Linked DNA regions of Homo sapiens: all the other regions are reported to be linked to region 1. Evidence: microRNA targets listed by miRTarBase, many of them from high-throughput screens and not tested one by one. Region 1 holds a microRNA gene; each other region holds the end of a gene's coding sequence.

Region 1 (5,074 bases):
AGGACGGGTGTAGTCTCCTTAATGTTCTGGCTAGGTCATTGTCTCATTCTGGGAGCTGTCAAGCACTCTCCTGAGCCTTGCAGGGTCCAGTAGAATAATTCCATACGTGAACTCTCATAGGCAGCATTTGCAACAGGTGGTACAAGGCATTTAAGATTGGGTAGAACGATGTCGATATTCTGTGAGTAATTTTTATATTGTCTTCCTGTTTATATTCTACATTTTGTAAGTATTGTTTAGGACTTTATTTGCTAGTAATGGGACTTTTATTTAAGGCAAAAATCTGCATCGTGCAATGTATCTTGCAGAAGCAGAGATGAATTTTAGCAGATGACATATTGCCATAAGACAAGATTGTTTAAATGAGAGAAATTTAACTTTAATCATATTTGTGCTTTGTAGTTTTGCCCCATCATTCAGTTTTTTAATTAAAGAAACTATAATGTCAGGTTTGGTTAAAATATCATTGTCAGAAAATTTGAAACTCACTGGGATCTTAGCTTTAAGACTGAGACTTTCATTTTAAAAATAAAATAGCTGAATGAAAAATAGTTTGCTTTAGTTAAGAATACATACATAAAGTGTTTAATTGTTAAATGTGAAAAAAGTTTTGAGTAGCCTTGTGTTACATTTTTTAAGCTTGACCAGAATCTAAGAAAGATGAAAATTAATTTCAAATACTGAAGCTAAAACATGTTAATGAACTAAATAAAAGTTGACACATTTCTAATTTTATCCATCTTCCCACCTTTTACCCTTAAGTATTTAAAGTATTCATAGACAAAAGCCATCCCTTATCATTTCACTCCAGTTAACAGTGCATAAACTGAAGTTTGGATATTTTCTCAAAAGATGTGTCAAAATATACATTTCAAGTGCATTAACCACTTTCCTTATGCTTCTGAAGATAAATGAATTGCCTGAACATCTCAAGATCTTGAAAGTTTATAGTGATGGAAGCATAGGTTGCAAGTGAATGTGTTGGCCTTGTAAATTCTACTCCTAGAACTGTAGCATAAGCACCTTCTTAATTAAAGAATGACGCAGTCATAAATTTATGTATACCATGACGCGTGGAAGTATCAAAAATTTCAACTTTCCATATGTCAAAAGAGGAGAAACTATTATTTTAATATAGTTGAACACTAGTTGGAAATAGTAGTCTTTTCACTGTGTTTTGCCCAGACCCAGACTGGCAGAGTTAACCCAGACTGGCAGAGTTAACTCAAAGCACTTGATCCTTTGGAATACTCTTTTTCTCCCTTTTCTTTTCTCTGTCTTTCCACCCTATCCCCTTCCAAAAAAAAAAAAAAAAAAAAAAAATCATGACATAGAAAACCATACTTAGTTTATGGACAAGAATTCTTAGAATAATTTATTCTTTGTTAAGCATCAGACTGAAGTTATATTGTTTTGTTATATTGAGTTTTTATATCAATATAGGGTGCTGCAAAGCTGTGTACAATAAAGGTCAAGGGTAGTGATTTGCTGACAACAATTAGGAAAAGAGAACTATAGAATGCACAGGAACATTTTCAGAAATGGGTTTTATTATATTTCATAGGCACCACTCACTTTACTTTTGGTGGGTTTTAATACTTGAATCAAAATAAAATAATACATGAGTTAAGTATTAAACCAACAGATTAAAACCCCAGGCCCCCGAGCCCCTCATTTTGGTTGTAGCTCTTGGTGTAGATGCTATGGTGTGAGGGCTGCTTTCTTTCAATGGCTGGTTGTCATTCAGGCTGGGTTGTCATGTGACTGCCTGTCTGTGCCTGCTGTACAGGTGAGCGGATGTTCTGCACAGCAAGTGTAGACAGGCAGACACATGACAACTCTGTCCAGCCAGGCCCTTGGTTCCTTCAGGTTTCCTTTGCTCATAGACAGATACAATCAGCCTGTTTTCCAGATTTGGTGATTTTGGAGAGTAAGGGGAAAGGGAGAAAAATACACAATATAATTAAACATTAAAACATTATGGAACTAAAAACAAGTTAGACTTTTGACTTTATTCAGAAAGTACATTTATACATTTGTTCCAAATGTGCTAACATGGATAATTTGCGTAACAGAAAACTCACATTAAAATTTTAAGGAAAAAAAGAGATTAAACACAAGGTTTATTCTTAAGTCCAATTCATATTATTACTGGCCCACATGTAGTCAGAGTTCAGCGTAATTGAACCAGATGTTTTTCCTCTTTGCAAAAAACTGCATATTTTAATACTGAAGTTAAAGATAAAAACTATGTTTATGCATGTTTCTTTTAGTAGATAAGTACCATAACCTTGTCCATGAAAAAGAAAATTATCATTTACATGGAAACAGCAGCCCTTTTCAAAATAATTAATGAGCCTAATTTATTTGGCAACCCAAGTTGCTGACTTTGGTATTTGATGCTCTGATAATAGGATCCTACAAGGGAATATGTTTTTACCAATTATATGTGAAACAACAGGAACCTATTTAAATGTCTCATTTTCCTTTTAAATGCAAAGTTTATAACTGTGGATGTGAAATCAAATTAAAGGCAGTTGTGAGCTTAAGTTATCCACCTCTTAATTAACTATAGGGCCATGCTGTGAATCAAAAGGGTACAAACTGGAAGGCTGTTACTCACAGTGATGCTCAGAATGTGTTTTGGATATAGTTAGTGCAATATAGTTACAAAATAGTACTTAAGAAAAGGCAGAAAAGGCAAATTCATTTCATATCCAAAAAATTAAAACCAGATCCTTTGAAAATTTTTCTTATAATTTATATGAGCTAATAGTGTTAAATATGCAGATATAAAATTTAATTCTGGTGAGTTGAGAGTAATTCTATTTTAATATCAATTATCAATTCACATCTTTAGAAGTATTAAGCAAATTCCCCTCCCCTTTTAAAAACAAAAATATCCAAATAGTCAAAATTCCAGTAAGTAGGACTTCTTAAAAAACACAGCACCAAAAAAACACAGTATTGTCCAAGGATTGTATAATTAGACATTTTCTCAAAGAACTTTAAGAAAAACAAACAGTTTGTGATTTATCTTTAATTGTAAAATTCTGAGAAAATAGCAAATAGAAACTTAATGGAAAGCAAAATAGTTTTAGATACTGAGAAAATTACAATTTTCTACAAATCTGGACTTTTATGCAGTGATTAGGTAAGGTAATGTTTTAACAAAAGCTAATAAGTGCCATTTTCTGTGTATTTATGTAATTTCAAGAAAACAAATTTCCGATTCTGTTTCGGCCATCACTTTCGAGTAAAGGAACTTTTTTTTTTTCTTGACAGAATCAAAAACATGAGTAAACTTGGCTGTTATTTAAATAATTACAAGGTTAGAGTATGCCAAAAACCAGTGCCTTAAAATACTATTGTGTTATTGTTGCTGCATTCAGTGCAACAGAAAGTAATTATAGAGTGATTCACTTACAAAGAGTATATTGGTGGAAATTAAAAATTACTATAATTCTTTATAACTTTTCCTCTCTCTCCCATAAATAATTTGATCCAGTTAACTCTGCTCAATTAAAGGAATGATGCATGCAACCTGAAAAAATAAAAAGAAATATTTGTGAGTTTGTATGTTATGCTTTAATATAAAACAGTTTTATTAAGGCAAGATATAAAAATTTTTTGAGCCAGAAAAACCACAACAGTTTTTCAGGGGAAAAAAAAAATCTTGCTGAAAACAATTGTTCTATTCATAAGGCTTTTGGACAATTTATGTTTCTGATAGATTTTTAAAACACACTTACAGTAACTATGTGACATATGCACACTTCATTGTTATGTTGAACCTGCCCCTAAACTTGTTAAAAAGATGAAAGACTGAAAACCATATTGACCTTTTTTTAATCTCCCAAATTATAGGTTGAATATTAGTTTATTATTACTTAAAATACTAGCTAAAACATAAAAGAGCTATTTGTATTATTATCATACCATGTAATTTTTAGTGTGGTTATTACACCTTGTTTTCTTTTTGTCTTTTATTTCTTAAGGAAAAAAATGTAAGAAAAGAATTGTCTTCTAAGTCTTCTGTAGTGAAATTAAACCAAAGCAACTCCAGGAAACTGGCTGTCACGCTAAGTCAAAAAATTCAAAATGAAGATTTAATTATTTTTCCTAATTTACTTCGTTATCTCTAACTATTAAAACTGATAAAAATTATTTGTAAGAGACCTTTGAAAATGAGTAAATATTTATTTCTACTTAATTTACAGAACATGAAAGTAAGAAGGGATTTGAAGTAAGAAAGTTTCTATCTTAACTCAGGAATTTCCTGTCTCAGGTTAAAGCCTGACCTTCTAGTTATTTTAAGCCAGGATTTCTGAGTGATGGTCTCTTAGTTATTATTTTGACGTTATTGTGATGGGTGGGCTATTCTCCTTAGAGCAGAGTAAAGTGCATTGTTTATAAAGAGCAGATCCCTTACAGAGTAAGTGAAAGCTTTGGCGTCTCTTTACCGAGCATGGATGCTTGTGGATGAGTGAATTTTTTCACATTACCAAGTTGTACTTTTTATATCTTATAACAGCTTAAGACTTCAACCAAAAAAGTGGGGAGAATTCTTTCGTTAGGATTTTTATGCCTAAACTGTTTCCCACAGAGTGAAATACATGGGTGGTCTGTAGGCGAGAGGTGGGGGTAGATAGTATATTTTGGTCTTTTACAAACATAAACATATTATCTGGGCCGAAAGCCCGAATGCCAAGCAGGAAGGATATTAAGCCTATTGACTAACTACAGGAAAGTGATCAGTGTGAAACTTTGTCCTATAGTAAACAGTCTTTCTTTGATTTTGAGATCTGTGGCCTAAAAGAAAAATGAGTTTGAAAATTTAAGTCCACCGTTTTAGATTGATCCTTTTCCAGTTAAGAAATTGTGGTGTTGAAGCTAAGGCTCTGAACTTCCTTTCTCTTAGATGGTGGAAAAGTCCTTTTAACCCAGTACCTAGTCCAATTTATCAATCATTCACATGCTAAAATGAAAAATAATTATGAAATTTCTATGAAGTGTAGTTTGGACAGACCCTGAAACAATTTTCTCTTCATGACCACATATAATGTTTAATTTT
Region 2 (5,074 bases), not on the chromosome of region 1:
AATATTCACTAGTGGCAGTGGTGCATGCCTGTAGTACCAGCTACTCGAGAGACTGAGGCAGGAGGATCCCTTGAGCCCAGGAGTTCGAGACCAGCCTGGGCAACACAGTGAGACTCTATCTCTATTAAAAACAAGAAGAGGAAGGTAAAAAAGAAAATAATCACAAACAAGTAAACAAGCTGACAATGTCATTTATTTATTTATTTTTTATTTATTTGAGACAGGGTCTCACTCTGTCACCCAGGCTGGAGTGTAGCAGTGCAATCATAACTCACTGTAGCCTCAACCTCCCAGGCTCAAGAGATTCTTCCACCTTAGCCTCCCCATTAGCTGGGACTGCAGGTGTGCACCACCATGCCCAGCTAATTCTTTCATTTTTCTGCAGAGACGGGGTCTTGCTATGTCACCCAGGTTGGTCTTGAACTCCTGAGCTAAAGTGTTCCTTCTTCCTTAACCTCCCAAAGTACTGGGATTACAGGAGTGAGCCAAGCCCAAGCTGACTACTTCTTTTTTTTTTGAGACAGAGTCTTGCTCTGTCACCCAGGCTGGAGTGCAGTGGCACCATCTCGGCTCACTGCAAGCTCCGCCTCCTGGGTTAACACCATTCTCCTGCCTCAGCCTCCCGAGTAGCTGGGACTACAGGCGCCCACCACCACATCTGGCTAATTTTTTCTTTTTTTGTATTTTTAGCACAGATGGGGCCAAGCTGACCACTTCCAAAAGTGTTCTCCACTCAAGCAGCTCGTTTACTTAACAATATCACTTATTCCCACACACCCCCTCCCAAATGTCTTTCATGTCTTTGCAGAACCAGCTCTCTTAAATACATTTTCCACAGTCATATTTACGATGCAGATTTTAAGTAAAATTGCAATGCTTGCAAGAAAAGAAACGTAGGATTCTGTGATGTCACTGAAAGTGACATTGGAGAACATCTGCTGGGAGCCAGGCAAGGCCACCACGGTGAAGATCAGGCGGTTCACCCTGAAAGAGAAGCTGGTCAAGGAGGCAAGATAGAGGCTTCCCAATGGGGTGAGTTGACCTCAAAGAGAGGCGTCCGTGAAGGATGAGAAGGAGCTCAGTTGTTTTTGCTACGCGACTCCCTTCAGCGTCATTCTGTCACGGCCAACTGTGAAATGAAGGATGTTGCAGCAGGCAATCCTATGATTTTATCAAAAAATTATGCATAAAATGTCCAACACGTGATTTTCTCTTTGTTGATTTCATGGAGAGTTACAACTATGTCTTAAATCTTGCTAACAATCATGTGACATCTGTTCATTATTAAGGAAGGTTTTGGGTTTCTTTCTCTTTCTCTTCTACCCCCACACCACAAGCACAGACAGCATTGGTTCTGTTGGGCCTGTTTCCAACGAATGGCTGGCGGCAGGCTCTTCTCTGGTGCCCATTACCGTGGTAGTGAGGCCATCTTTGATCTGCAGGTCACTGGGTCCTGCCTGGGCCAAACACCTCCCCCTCTTCCCTGCAGAAACCTCTTCATCACACAGCAGGACATGAATTTACCCACAGGAGCCACAGGCCAAGCAAAGAGAACGCCAAGTGAGCCATGGGGGGAGAAGTTTCCGGCGTCTTCTTCCGGACCCACTGACCCCACAGCAGCCCCTCCTGCCCCACTGGCCAGGCTGGAGGCAGCTACCAACTCCCTACCTCAGTGTGGTCTGTTCTCATGGAACCTCATCAAAGTGTACCCTTAAAAAGGGTTCCTTTTAGCCGAGCACGGTGGCTCATGCCTGTAATCCCAGGACTTTGGGAGGCTGAGGCAGGCGGATCATGAGGTCAGAAGATCGAGACCATCCTGGCTAACACGGTGAAACCTCATCTCTACTAAAAATACAGAAAAAAAAAATTAGCCAGTCGTGGTGGTGGGCGCCTGTAGTCCCAGCTACTTGGGAGGCTGAGGTAGGAGAATGGTGTGAACCTGGGAGGCAGAGCTTGCAGTGAGCCGAGATCGTGCCACTACACTCCAGCCTGGGCAACAGAGTGAGACTCCGTCTCAAATAAAAAAAAGAAAAAAAAAAAATTCCTTTCATTTGAGCTTCAATTGTTCTTTGCTGCTCAAAAGCCTTCTAAGTCTTACCATTTACCAGGCAGAACTGAGAACTCTGTAGCTCCCCAGGTTTCTCCAGGCTTTCTAGAACTTTCCTCCTGGCTGGCAAATCAGCCGGTTCTTTCGAGCTCACCCTGTTCTTGTAATGCTTTGATAAATGCAGCCACAACGACCCACGTGGGAGTGGCATTGTGTTTTCTGAACTCTTCCCTCAGGGATACACGATCTGGGACAGTCTTACCAAACACATAATAACTACCTTTCTCACCTCTAATAACTTTCCTTTCCACCCACCCTCTGACCAATAAACCAGGCCCACAATGCTATGTTTTTGTTCTGGTAGGTTTCTGGGTCAACCAGGATAGACCAATTACGCTGCTCACACGCGCCACCCCCACGTTTCAGTGACTTCACACGACACAGGCTTACTTCCTGTTCATATCCCAGGCCACTGCACGTCAGCTGGTGACTCTGCTCTGTGCTTCGTCACTCTGGGACTCAGTCGGAAGCAGCAGCCACTGCTTGGAATGTTGGTGGTCATGGTAGGAGAAGAAACGGAGAATGCAGAAGACTGCAGCAGGTGCTTCAAACTTCTTCCCACTGACGCAAGCAAATCACATGGCCACACCTGACTTAGAGAGGGCTCATGGAAGGGCCACCCTACCACCTGCCATCCAACCTGTTCCCAGAAGGAGAGGAGAACCAGGATGCCTACAAATAGCCCTAATTACCACCCCATTCTGGGCTCTGTGTGGCAATGCTGCCAGTCCTATAGATAGGTTTTTGCCTAAATGAGCTTAAGCTTTTTTTTTTTTTTTACTCCAACATATGCATTTAAGGCTATAAATTTTTCTCTAAGCACTGATTTGGCTGCATGCAGTAAATTTGATAGCCCCATTATTTCATTAGGGGTTACAAAATGGTTAGCTTCTAATTCTACGATTTCTTCTTTATTTATAAACTGGAATACTTCCTCTAATTTTTTGGTTACCGTAAGATAGAGTTTCTCTATCAGAGATAGAATAAGTGCCTGATTATTTTCCTTTATATAGTCATCTTCGAAATAATGACTTGATTCCTAGAATCCTCTAAAGGCAACTAAATTTTACAGTTTGCATAGTATCTCTATTATTATTTGTGTATGTATGTGTGTGCGTATGATTACTCACTCCTAGTTTAAACATATTTGATGTGTATCAGTCCAGTTAAGAAATTGGTGTTCAGATTGTTTCAAGTCTGTCTATACAGAGTTTCTCCAGGTTTGACTCTTACCTTTTTTTTTTTCTTTTTTTGAGACGGACGAGAGGCAGCGGAGACAGCCAGCCCCATCCTAGCACCTTCCAGCAACATCACCATCAGACTCACGGAGTCCGAAATATAACAAGAATAAGAAAACAATAGCCATAGCCATAGTAATGACACCGAACAACAGAGAAATCAGCAAGATATGTGTTTCAGTTTGTCGGCATGGTATTTTTATTAGTTTGCAACTTTCTGTTTAAGATAAAGCAGTGTGATCCTGGTTAACATGGTGAAACCCTGTCTCTACTAATAATAATAAAAAAAAAATTAGCCGGGCGTGGTGGCGGGCACCTGTAGTCCCAGCTACTGGGGAGGCTGAGGCAGGAGAATGGAGTGAACCCGGGAGGCGGAGCTTGCAGTGAGCCGAGATGGTGCCACTGCACTCCAGCCTGGGTGACAGTGCGAGACTCCATCTCAAAAAAAAAAAAAAAAAAAAAAAGATACAGCAGAGTGTTGGACATGCAAAGCCACTCCAAGGAAGCCTCTTAAACGCCCACCTTGTTGCAGGTGGGACGCTTATGCCCAGCTGCTCCAGCTGGAAAAGACAGGACTGCAAGTGGGTTCAGGAGCTCAGGCCTCTGAAAAGATGAGCAAAGGCGAGGCTAGTGGGTGAGGGGTGATTCAGCTGCAATTGCAGTTGACTTGGGGAGAGAATTTGTTAGGAGAGACAATGGACATTAATTAGGGTGGACTCTTCTTAGGAAAAGGCAGCCAGATATGGCATCGTTCTACAGCAGGGAATGGACCCTGAGCAATGATTTGGGGCTCAACAATGAAGGACAGGTCACAGCTTTGGAAGACAGGATTAGCAGGACTCACATGAGGCCTGAGTCCAGAGCCTCAGATCTTACACTGGCAGCACACAGGGACACAGCAACTAGACTGGGAGCAGCAGGGATTGCAGCAACTGGACTGGCAGCAGGATGACCCACAACCTGAGGAGGAGCAGCAGGGCTTACAGCAGCTGGACTGGCAGCAGTAGGGCTTGCAGCAGCTGGACTGGCAGCAGGATGACCCACAACCTGAGGAGGAGCAGCAGGGCTTACAGCAGCTGGACTGGCAGCAGGATGACCCACAGCCTGAAGAGAAGCAGCAGGGCTTACAGCAGCTGCACTGGGAGCAGCCACAAGAGCCACAGCCTCCTTTGGAGCCCCCACAGGAGCCACAGCCCCCCTTGGAACCCCCACAGGAGCCACAGCCCCCCTTGGAGCCCCCACAGGAGCCACAGCCCCCCTTGGAACCCCCACAGGAGACACAGCCCCCCTTGGAACCCCCACAAGAGCCATAGCCCCCCTTGGAGCCCCCACAGGAGCCACAGCTGGAGCAGGAACAGGCTGGCACACAGCAGCACACAGGTTTGCAGCAGCAGATGGGCACACAGCAGCTGGAGCCACAGCCCCCACAGCCGGAGCCACAGCCCCCACAGCCGGAGCCACAGCCCCCACAGCCAGAGCCACAGCCCCCACAGCCGGAGCCACAGCCCCCACAGCCGGAGCCACAGCCTCCAGAGCAGCCACAGCAGCCCATGGTTCTGGTGGATTGAGGGTGGAGCAGGTAGAGGAGCAGATGAGATGGAGGTGCAGGTGTGGAGCCCCCTGAGCCTGGACCCCCTTATATCCCTGGGTAGGGTTGCTCTGAGACCTTGGTCACTCCATCATTCCCAGCACTTCCTGGGTATGTGATTATTTGTTTGCTGGACTTCGG
Region 3 (5,074 bases), not on the chromosome of region 1:
CTCTACAAAATATTTAAAAATTAGCCAGGCATGGTGGTATGTACCTGTAGTCCTAGCTAATCGAGAGGCTCAGGTGGGAGGATCACTTGAGCCCAGGAGTTCAAGGTTATGGTGAGCTGTGATCACACCAGTGCACTCCAGCCTGGGCAATAGAGAGACACCCTGTCTCTATTTAAAACAACAACAACAACAACAACAAAACCAACAACTTTCAACTGTGGAGGAACAGGGACAGAGGCCAGAGGCAGATGGTGGGTTGTTTCATGATGGGGACCATCAGGGCTTGTTAGCATGATTTAGAAGATTCTCCAGTGGAGAGGGCATGGTCAGTGATGAGGAGAAGGGGGAGGCTGAAAGAGGAGAAAGAGCCTGTGCTCCAGACTCCAGGTGGACAGGAGGCCTTTGAGAATTCCTCCTCCATTGTCACAGGAAGGAAGCCTGAGGCACAGTAGGTGTGTTCTGTCCCCATCCCTTTCCTTGTAATGCTTGGAGAGGAAGGAAGAGAGGTGACAGGTCACAGGGGAAGGAGGTCCTAGAAGCCGAGCAGCCAGGGACTTTGTCAGACCACACACCCCCATTCCCCGTAGGACACCTGGATTTCCAAGAACTCAGATCTCCTTCTAAATTCTACACACCTCTCTTTCTTTATTTTTAGAGTCTTCTTCAAGATCAAAAGCCGAAATGCACACATGAAAACTCACAGGCAGCAGGAGGAACAACAGAGGCAAAAGGCTCAGAAGGCGGCTTTTGCAGCTGAGATGGCAGCCACGATTGAGAGGACTACGGGGCCCGTGGGGGCGCCGGGGCTGCTGCCCCTGGACCAGCTGAGTCTGATCAAACCCATCAAGGATGTGGACATCCTCGACGACGACGTCGTCCAGCAGTTGGGAGGTGTCATGGAAGAGGCTGAAGTTGTGGACACCGATCTTCTCTTGGATGATCAAGATTCAGTCTTGCTTCAGGGTGACGCAGAACTATAAAGCCCTGTGTGTCACTTAGAGACAGTGAAAACCCACGGCCTCCATCTTCATTAATCAGGAAACCTGGACTGCCTGCTTGTTTTGTAACCCTTTTAAACTACCTGTTTTAAAAGTGGTCATTTTATTCAGGTTTAGAAAAAAAAATCCTATTTCTTTTCCTTTTATTTAAAAAAATTTGTTTTTGTGGGGGGTTGGGGGAATAAATAATTGGCACAACTATCTTTAAGAGGTGTTTCATCTGGGCTACCTTCTCATGAAATCATTCCCAGTAGGGACTGAAGCTGACCTTCATGTTCCATTGCATTCAGATGTCAACCATCCCGGTTGCCTTTTATCCCAAAGCTTGCTGTGAGTGTGTGTGTGTGAGACGCAGGCGACCCTCTTAGTACTGGGGTCTTGGGGCCAACTTTTCCCATCAAGCGTTACTTTGATTCTGTTCTGACCTCATTCCATAGTTTGCAGTGAGCATGGCATCTTTGCCTGGAGATACTATGCTAGGGGCAGCTTTCCAGGGGCAAAGCAAGCCCTCGTGTTACACGGCTCTCCTCCAGCTCACACGACATGTGAGGAGATGACCAAATGTGAAAACAGGTTTCCCCTGTGTTGCCCGTCATCCTTTGGCCCGTTCACAGGAATGGAGTACTGTATAATTTTAGGCTTTCATTCCCAGCAGTGTTTACTGAGGACCTGGTTTTCTAGAACAGGTGTGTCCTGTCCTCTTCCATGTTCCCTGGGGGCTGGTCAGCTCCAAGTTGTGGGTGGCAGAGCTGTGTTTCAGCATGAACTGACTAGAGACCCATCTGGAGGCAAATATTAAGTTGCCAGGACTGCTTTCACTTCAGGGTGATTGAAGGACACATATTGAAGTACCTAGAATGCCAGAAAGTGTTCTATTGCCCAAAAAACAAATCAGAAAAGCCTATTCTTTTTTGCAACGCTGTTAATGATTAGTGGAGTTCTGAAATTACTTTGTGCCACTTGGAAGTACTGTGAAACCGCATTCACTGGGATTTTGCTGTAATTCACATCCGCTGGACTGAAGTTTACCTTGATGTTAGCTATAAGAAATAGTTTTCTAACACATACGATAGCAAATACAAGACAAATAGCATTGAAGGCCAACAAAAATGGCTTCAGATACACCTTAGCTATAATGTTTGCATTCAAACAATGAATGTATTCATCACAAGTCACTTACCAAAGCACTTCTAGACTTCTCCAACCTCCATGACTTTGCTCTGCTTCCTCCTGTCCCTGTCAGCAGGGTTGCTGTTTGTACTTGAAGGTAATAAACCTGTAATCCTTCAAAAATGCCATTTAGCCCCAGGCTTCTGAGCTGAGTCAGACTGACCCATCCCACCGTTAGGGCAAAAGTCAGGCTGGGACACAGCGCCAGTACAGAGAGGATCCTGCTTCATGCAACTCCCCTTTTGGAGTTAATGCAGCGTGATTTCCTGGGCCGGTGTTTTCAGGCATCGCCCACCCCAGGTATGCTGGTTCCCAGCTCCACGTAGGTGTGCCTATCACGCTGGGCCACTTTGCTGACAACATTCATAGCTTGACATGAGAGAGAATATCAGCAGAAGCATGAGAGTAGGACCTGACGTCTTTGACTCTGCAAAAGCATTTAGCACACACTCATGGGGGGGAACTGGCTGTGAGCCACAGCAGCCCCACACAGACAGTGGTCTCTGAACTTCAGGAAAGCCATGGACAGAAAAAAAAATAAAATTCTTTTCCATCATTCTATTTTCAAAGAGGTCTTGGCGTTTTCCTACATCTTTTGTTTAGAGGGGGAAAAAAGTTTCATTTGCTGCCATTTCAGAAAGGTTATGCTATCCTGTTTTATCCAAGCAGTTGTGAGTCAGGAACTGCCTGGGCAGTGTGCATCAACTTTGTGGCCGAACCATTACAGCTGTCATATCCTTGGCTGATCGTCTCTCCCAGGGACTACTGCCCTCCACTTAGTGTCTGAGGGTAAGCCTAGAAGGGTGCTGCTATTGGGTCTATGGAAGCTTATCTATCAAAGGAGCAAACATCCAGAAAAGTGTTTATAAAGCAAATGTATTGCCTCTGTTTAGAGATTTGCCCAGCTGTTCCAGTTTTAAACATTAAAAAATAAACTCAGTTGCCATGGCAAAAATAGAATGCACAGCTTACTTATAATTTTCCATGCAGTATAGCATAAGGATTTTTGACTTGAAACAACCAAAGAACTCCTCCTTAACGAGACAGTTCAAATTCCTGAATTAGTATTTCTTGACTATCAACTTAAAGAATGGACTTCCTAGTACAATGTTGCACTTATTTTTTTTTCTGAAATAATTCTGCCTGCATGTATGTGTTGTGTTTTAGCTTCTCCCCTTACCCCACCCCAAAGATCTTTTCTTCCTAATGGTTAATGTCTCAACTCGGTTACTGTTTACTATCAGATGGTTTTTCATTAGTGAATTTAGACCTCTTTGAGAAAGCTTGTATATAAAAAGTTAACAGATATATTTTATGGAAAAACCCATCTTATTTTCAAATATATTTAACTGCTGTTATATTTTATTAGAGGAAGGTTGTAAATATTTTCTAGGAGTTCTATTGTAAAGAAAAGTATTTTTGAAAAAAATTAATGTAATAAAAAGGAAAACATTTTTAAATAGTGGTTGTGATTGCTTCCTGTTCTGGCTTCGTTATGTTCTATTCTCAGCAGATGAATTGCATGCCTTCCATATCAGGATGTAATTTATTCAGGTTTGCACTATTATAAGTTGACATCATAATATCTAGTGTGCTTAACTGTATTTTCCCGGAATGCAAGTCCCTTGGTCCATATTAAAGCACTATGTATAGCATATTCATAATTTTTCTTTTGTAACGTGTGTATTTTTAATAAGGATTTTATGTAACATTTTGGCAACAAGAGGACCGTATTTTCTAGTGAATTTTATAATAACATTTTGCTAAAAATGTTTCTTCCTAGGTCAGTTTTTGTTAAGGTGAACCAAAAGTCTTATTTTACCAGGGGTTTAAAAAAAGTTTGAAGCTTGAAAGCAAAGTTATATTTAAACATCATATGTAACAAATAAATAAAGATGTTTTATAGACTTGTCCTAAAAAGGTGCATTCCTTAAAAAAAAAAAAAAGAAAAAAAAAGGAAACTGGGGCATTCTAGGTTGTTTCCCCTCCAAGTGATAAGCTTTTTTTTTTTCTTAATTATCACAATGCTTCTTCAAAAAGGGAACCAGGGAAATTTTATTTAACACATTCTAATCATTAGCCTCTCAGAAAGTTATTACAGTTCCTATAGATGGGCATTCATCAAATGGAGATGTAACCAAACAGACACTGTCATATTTATTTGTGAAAACCTGATTCAATATTGCATCAGCTGCTCTGAAAATAAAATATTAATCTTTTGCGTTTCGTTTGGCTTAAATATTTCTTCTTTCTAGCCATTGCTATGACTTCTCAATGCTGGATAAATGCTAGTTTACCTGTTAATTGGTTTCCGTAGACAACAAGTTTAAGTCGGCTGATCAAATTTAATGATCATTATTAAAGTGTCCCCCGACTCCGAAGACCAGGACATACATTTCTGCTATTCAAGCAGTGGATGAACCACTTGGGTTCGTAAACCTTATGACTCAAACTGTGTCATAAACTCAAACTGAGTCATAAACCTTATGACTCAAACTGTGATTCAAGGGAGCACACTGTGACATACAGGTGTCTTACACTAAATCCTCCACAAAGTCTTAAGTCCACCCCGATTTATTTGCATTTTAAATCTGAATTTCCAAATTTGAGTAAGTAAGTTTACTTTTTTTTTTTTGACAGTCTTGCTTTGTTCCCCAGCCTGGAGTGCAGTGGCACGATCTTGGCTCACTGAAGCCTCCACTCCTGGGTTCAAGCAATTCTCACGGGTCAGCTCCTCTAAGTCCACCCCGATTTATTTGCATTTTAAACCTGCATTTTCAAATTTGAGTAAGTATGTTTACTTTTTTTTTTTTGAGACAGAGCCTTGCTTTGTTCCCCAGCCTGGAGTGCAGTGGCATGATCTCAGCTCACTGAAGCCTCCACTCCTGGGTTCAAGCAATTCTCAC

Evidence for each region. The annotated mature microRNA hsa-miR-3120-3p reads CACAGCAAGUGUAGACAGGCA and lies in region 1 at 1,806-1,826, shown strand. An mRNA with a match to its seed (bases 2 to 7 or 8) in the 3' UTR can be bound and repressed. Matches are read on the target gene's strand: a 7mer-m8 pairs with bases 2 to 8, a 7mer-A1 pairs with bases 2 to 7 and ends in A, and an 8mer does both.
Region 2: the mRNA of KRTAP5-4 is a reported target of hsa-miR-3120-3p. Seed matches in the 3' UTR shown: 7mer-A1 at 4,100-4,106 and 7mer-A1 at 3,812-3,818.
Region 3: miRTarBase lists TRERF1 as a target of hsa-miR-3120-3p. Seed matches in the 3' UTR shown: 7mer-m8 at 1,324-1,330, 8mer at 1,993-2,000 and 7mer-m8 at 2,247-2,253.

The regions. Positions count from the first base shown.
Region 1 is chr1:172,137,053-172,142,126 of GRCh38, forward strand. MIR3120 (microRNA 3120) reads left to right here and starts at 1,756; the gene lies at 1,756-1,836. The region is part of intron 14 of DNM3 (dynamin 3); the gene reads left to right. DNM3OS (DNM3 opposite strand/antisense RNA) reads right to left here. Exons shown (of 4, transcript NR_103486.1): 4 at 1-3,544. It overlaps MIR214 (microRNA 214), which reads right to left and starts at 1,855; the gene lies at 1,746-1,855.
Region 2 is chr11:1,617,197-1,622,270 of GRCh38, forward strand. It overlaps KRTAP5-4 (keratin associated protein 5-4), which reads right to left and starts at 4,942. Exons shown (of 1, transcript NM_001347674.1): 1 at 3,762-4,942. The coding sequence starts at 4,897. The coding sequence ends at 4,211. RefSeq lists an enhancer at 1,986-3,185.
Region 3 is chr6:42,224,251-42,229,324 of GRCh38, reverse strand. It overlaps TRERF1 (transcriptional regulating factor 1), which reads left to right. Exons shown (of 18, transcript NM_001395490.1): 18 at 656-4,394. The coding sequence ends at 980. LOC105375061 (a long non-coding RNA gene) reads right to left here and starts at 4,586. Exons shown (of 4, transcript XR_001744122.2): 1 at 4,466-4,586. RefSeq lists an enhancer at 4,739-4,818.